2 separate regions of the Homo sapiens genome follow, and region 1 is linked to region 2. Evidence: fine-mapped expression QTL. A gene starts in region 2. The other region holds a variant in brackets. All regions are shown on one strand. Distances are from middle to middle.

The links. PIP is the estimated chance that this variant, and not a neighbour inherited with it, causes the effect.
Region 1: its variant is fine-mapped to the expression of SLC39A4 in skeletal muscle (GTEx, PIP 0.98).

What each region holds. Positions count from the first base shown.
Region 1 is chr8:143,470,425-143,473,316 of GRCh38, reverse strand. The region is part of intron 5 of ZC3H3 (zinc finger CCCH-type containing 3); the gene reads left to right. Among named protein-coding and RNA genes, the nearest start is that of SNORD149, 34 kb to the left of the region's middle. RefSeq lists an enhancer at 2,039-2,740. The variant A/G (reference allele first, on the strand shown) is at 1,552.
Region 2 is chr8:144,415,559-144,418,444 of GRCh38, reverse strand. It overlaps SLC39A4 (solute carrier family 39 member 4), which reads left to right and starts at 1,601. Exons shown (of 12, transcript NM_130849.4): 1 at 1,601-1,847; 2 at 2,354-2,635. The coding sequence starts at 1,656. It overlaps LOC124902041 (a long non-coding RNA gene), which reads right to left. Exons shown (of 2, transcript XR_007061145.1): 2 at 1-2,886.

The DNA.
Region 1 (2,892 bases), 950 kb after region 2:
AGGGACAGAAGCAGCAAGAGCATCCTGAGGCCGCCATGCAGAGGCCTGGGCAGGAGTGGGAGGGGGCGTGAGGCATCGCAGGACCCTGTGCACAGCCAGCAGGGGGAGGAGATGGGTTGGGGGCAGGCGGGGTCTACCTGGCACCACTGCACCCACATTCAGAAAGCTCCCGGTAGTCACGATAGTAGTACTGACTGAGGTTGATAATTAAGTGGCCAAGACAGCAGCCATGGAGACCATGATGTCCTGACGTACGCGAGAGCCCCAGGCGGCCAGGATAGGCAGCAGAGGCTGCTCCTGGCAGTCAGTCTGCAGGCCCTGCCCTGCTCTGCGGAAGCTGGAGCCAGGGAGGGGATGCCTACTGCCCTTTCCAGAGCCAGAGCCCATCCCAGGGAGGACCCACCCACTCAGGGAGTGGCCCCCACTGCAGCAGCTGCATCCCACTCCCTGCACAGGGCCAAGGCTGGCCCCGCCTGTTCACCCAGGTCGCGGTGCGTCCTTGGGATTCTCCCTGCACCGTGCACCCGCGGGACCCACGGAGGGGCTTGTGGCATGGGTCCGTCTCCCCGCACCGGGGCCCTTGGGTCGTCTCAGCCCTCGCCGGGATCCTGTGGCCCACGTTTGTTGGGCTGGGTGGGCCTGTGTGGGGAGGTGCACCTGCCATCCCAGCTCTCCCATCCCTCAGTGTCCACAGAGACGCCTGTGGCAGGCAGCAGGTTTGCACTTGGCCCCCTCAGACACGGTGCCCACCACCCGGATGGCCCAGGGTCTGAGCTTTGGGGAGGAGGGAGTGCATAGCCCTGGCCCGCTCAGCAGTGGGGAGGAGAGGGAGGGGCTGCACACTCCTCCCTGGGAGGCTGTGGTGCTGCTGTGTCTCCCCGTCGGTGCCAAGTGCTGAGCTCCGCAGAATCTCGCCTTGCCATTTACACACATGGCAGAGCCCTGGCGGGCGCAGAGCCCCTGACGTCACCACACTGTGAACAGTCTATCCCGGCCACCCTTGCTGACTGGCCTCTGCCTCCGTTGGCCCTTCCCTTGGCCCAGAGCCATCAGAGAGCCAGTCTGGTTCCCCCAGCCCTTCTGGGGCATGTCTCACCCCTGCACCAGCAGCAACCCAGAACTCCTTCATTCAGCCTCAGCAACGCCAGCAAGGAGGGTCTGGCGCACAGAGGCTGGTGCCAGCCAGGGCAGGCAGGGGTCCAGGGGCCTCCTTGCTCCCACCCCTGCCCCTGGGGAGGCCCGCCTGCCATCGAGTAGGGCTATGGCCTCCGGTGTCCCGCTGGCCAGCCTTGGTGGCGACTGTGGCAGTCCTGGGGCTGTGCAGAGCCCAGTGAGGCCGCACTCGCCCTTTGGGTCGACAGGCGAGGCCACAGCTCCAGCTGCCTGGGCCACCACCGGCCCCGCCTCGCCATGAGGAAGGTAGATGGCTCCCAGCTGTGGGATACCGCTGACCAGCCCACTTAAGAGGAATAATAATTAAAGAAATAAATTTCCTCCCCTGGTGTCAGCAGAAATTTGACTTCAACAAGAAAGTGCAGCAGCCTTCTTGGA[A/G]GGGGTGGGGGTGGCTGTCCTGGCTGACCCCCTGGGCTCTGGGCCCCTGACGGCAGAGGACAGTATGGCTTCTACCCCCAGCTTCCCCAGTCCCTGAAGCCGAGCCCTCCCTCCTGGGCCCGCCTGCCACCTGAAGGCCTGAGCTCCAGGGTCCCTCCCCACAGAATCCTGTGTGGGCCCCCAGTGAGCATGGCCCATATGTGGCCACCATGAGCCTGATGGCTCCTGTGGTGGGGCAGAGGCCCCAGTCTCTGGCCACAGGGCTGGCCTTGGCTTGTTCTGTGTCCCCAAAGCCCCCAGCCACCTGTGGCCGTGGCCCTCCCTGCTGTGGGCCAGCTGCTGCGTGTTCCTGGCACGTCCGGCCTCTGCGCCTCCCCTGCTGGTCACCTGCCCACCCTCCCTGGGGTGACGAAGGCCCTGTCGGCTTGCCCCCGCCCCACACTGCCTCTTCTGGGGCACCCTCTGCCGCTGGCTGCCTTCTCCCAAGGGCACAGCCTCCATGTGCCAGACGGACGTGCCCTGGAGGGCCTGGTGGGCGCGCTGTGAGCAGACCAGGGCTTGGCGCAGCCCTGCCTAACTTCTTGGGAGAGTGCTGGCCTGGGAATTGGGGCTGCCTGCGTGCCCCGGTCATCGTGGATGTTGTCCCTTGGGCCAGGCAGCAGCTGTCCAGTGGGTGCTGGCCGGAGCAGGGCCTGGAGGTGCTGAGGAACCTCTGACTGCAAGGCCCCCACCCCGCTTGCCTTGCAGAGCCTGACATCCAGCGGTGCCCAGAGCTGGCACTGGGGCACCGAGCAGGGGGTGGGGCTGGTGGGAGCCGAGTCTATTCTGAGAAGATCCCGGGGAAGTGAAAGTTCTCTGGAATGCATGGCGCCTTCTGCTGTGGAGCTGCTGGGGGTTATTCAGTTGAACTTTTTAGCACTTCTCAGGCAGCCCTTGCTTCTTTTCCAGCCAGCTATTTTATGTGCATTTTTTAACACTGCAAAGCATTTGAAAAAGTGCCTCCTGTTCTTGTCAGAACTCCTGCCGTGAGCCTCACACTGGCATTTTTTTAAAGAGCACAAAGTGGAAAGGGAGGTAACCCCTCCTGCTGCACCCGGTCCTGCCAGGCGGGCACGTGATGCCAGTGTGTCCCTGCCTGGAGCAGATGGCGTCGCAGTGTCACTGGCAGCCTGGGCGAGAGACTGGGAACCAGCAGTGCCGACAGACCGCCGCATTGCCGCGTCCCTCACCCCACAGGCTGGCAGGTGTGAGGGCGTGCCCGTGCCGTCTGGACTGGGCCCTGCTGCCCACCCGGGGACAAGGGTCCCGGCCTGAGAACGGGGGCTGCCCTGAGCACCCCCG
Region 2 (2,886 bases):
CTAAAGTAGGCCCTTGAGCCTATTTTAGCATGGGTGGCCTCCAGCCAGCCCATTGGTCCTGGGGTGGTGTGGGAGGGAAAGGGCCAGTTTGGGTCCGCAGCATCTTCAGGCTGTGTGTAGAGCAGCCCCCTCATGGTCCTGGGACCCAGAAATCATCTGCACCCCCAGCAGGCTCTGCACCCCCGGCAGGATCTGCACCCCCGGCAGGCTCCCCTAAGGGCCCCCAGAAGGATACCACTGCGGGTGGGCCCAGCCAGAGGAGCACCATGAGATCCGCTTGGTGGGGTGAGGCCGGCAGGGGAAGCACCCTGACCCCAGGACACTGGGCTCAATGCCCGCCCTGCCCCGTCCCACCCTGTGTATGGCGGGACAGAGTCCTTGGGCCTCAGGCACCCAGCTCCCCACCCCAGCCCCACCCACAATGCTCAGGGTCAGGCTGGCTGGACCGGGCGGGAGGTGGCATCTGGACTCCCCCTTCAGAAGGCAAAGCTGCCCTGAGATCTGCCTTCCCCTTCCCCCAGACTTCCTGCCATCACCACCACGGTAGAGATAAGGCCTCTAGGCTCAAAGGCCAGAGAGGGAGCCCACAGAGAGGGCAGGGCTGGGAGCCACAGCCTCCCTGCCCCCGGGGCTAGAGCTGGGGTCTTGCCCCAATCTTATCCTGACCCAAGCTCGGCCAGGTGGCTGCCAGGGCCCAGCTCCGTCTTCCTGTTTGTCTGTGTTGGAGCTTCCTGGGGCTGTCTCCGGCCTAAGGGAGCATGATGCAGCAGGCACCTTTTCAGTTTCTTTGACTCCATCGCAGTCCCCAACAGGGACCACAGCCCAGGACCCAGGAGGAGGGAGGTCCATGTCCCCACCCCCAACAGGGGCCACCGAGGGTGTCTGGGCAGCCTCTGTTGGGAGGGGCAGAGGCAGGGACCTGGGAGCTCTCAGGCTCTGGGGGCATCTGTGCACCTCTGCCCTGTGTCCCCCAGCTTGGAGGCAGCCCCCAGATGGACAGCCAGAAGGGGACACCCCAGCCCTGCCCCACAGCTTGGGGGGCAGCAGGCAGAGGACAGAAGCCCACCCAGGCTGGCCTGGCGTGGTGAGCCACGCCGGTAATCCCAGCACTTTGGGAGGCCAAGGCGGGCGAATCACCTGAGGTTGGGAGTTCAAGACCAGCCTGACCAACATGGAGAAACACTGTCTCTACTAAAAATACAAAAGTAACCGGGCGTGGTGGCGCTGCCTGTAATCCCAGCTACTCGGGAGGCTGAGGCAGGAGAAGCACTTGAACCCGGGAGGCGGAGGTTGCCGTGAGCCAAGATCACGCCATTGCACTCCAGCCTGGGCAGCAAGAGCAAAACTCCAACTCGAAAAAAAAAAGACCACCGAGGCTGCCTGTCCAGGGGAAGGGGCCCAGCCCTCGACCCCCACAGGCAGTGGCTCCAGGCTGTTGGGGAGGATCTGCCACTGGAATGGTTAACCCAGGCATCTCCAGCAGCCAATCACAGAGCTCTGCAGGAATACCTGGGAGAGGTCCTCATGCAGCCCGGGCGGGTCCTAGCCCAGCCCCAGTCTGGCCCTGGACAACCCCAGCAAAGCCGCCCTCAGCCAGCCCAGAAGCACTGGGCCTTGGCCACAGCAACACCCACTGAGCACGCTGGGAGCTGAGTATGGCGTCCCTGGTCTCGCTGGAGCTGGGGCTGCTTCTGGCTGTGCTGGTGGTGACGGCGACGGCGTCCCCGCCTGCTGGTCTGCTGAGCCTGCTCACCTCTGGCCAGGGCGCTCTGGATCAAGAGGCTCTGGGCGGCCTGTTAAATACGCTGGCGGACCGTGTGCACTGCGCCAACGGGCCGTGTGGAAAGGTAACAGCCCCACCCGACGGGTCCCCCAGCCCTGGCCTCTTCCCGCCAGCTCCGCCCTGCCAGCCGGCAGCAAAGGGCCCTGGGCAAACTCCAGGAGGCGGAGGAGGCTAGTGGCAGTACCTGGGCACCCTGACCCTCCCCACAGGCCAGAGCCCACCCTCCTGCTCATGAGGGCAGACAGGCCTTTCCAGGGACACAGTCCCTCTTCTCCCCAGGACCCCAGGGCCAACTCCCCCTGCCGGCCCTCTGCCATCAAATTGGCAGTGGCTCCAGGGGAGTCCCCTGGGGATGGGGGACCACTGTTGGGGACCCCTCTGCGTGCACCCCTGTAGTTGGGGAAGCAGGACAGGGGCCTGGGGAGACGGAAGGGCGCCAGGGGTTGAGAGAGGATGGTGGACGTTGTTGGACTTGAAAGGGAAACAGGCCCTCGGGGAAGCCCCTGGCCAGGCCTGCCTCTCCCCTCCCTGGTGGGCCCAGCGCCCCTGCTCACTTGTCTCTGCCCACAGTGCCTGTCTGTGGAGGACGCCCTGGGCCTGGGCGAGCCTGAGGGGTCAGGGCTGCCCCCGGGCCCGGTCCTGGAGGCCAGGTACGTCGCCCGCCTCAGTGCCGCCGCCGTCCTGTACCTCAGCAACCCCGAGGGCACCTGTGAGGACGCTCGGGCTGGCCTCTGGGCCTCTCATGCAGACCACCTCCTGGCCCTGCTCGAGAGCCCCAAGGCCCTGACCCCGGGCCTGAGCTGGCTGCTGCAGAGGATGCAGGCCCGGGCTGCCGGCCAGACCCCCAAGATGGTGAGGGAGAGTCCAGGCAGACCAGGGGAGTGGGTGAGGAGGGTCCCACGGCCCATGGGACCCGGCCTGGCTGCAAAGCCTTCGGGGAGCCTGGGGGCCTGGGGAGACGCCCAGGAGTCGGCCTGCGGCTGGGGATTCACAACGTGGGGCTCACTACTGGGCAGTTGGGAGCCTGTAGGAGCCCCGGGAGGGACCTCATGAGGGAGGAACCCAGAGGCCTGAGTGGGAGCCTGAAGCAGCTGGGCCCGGCA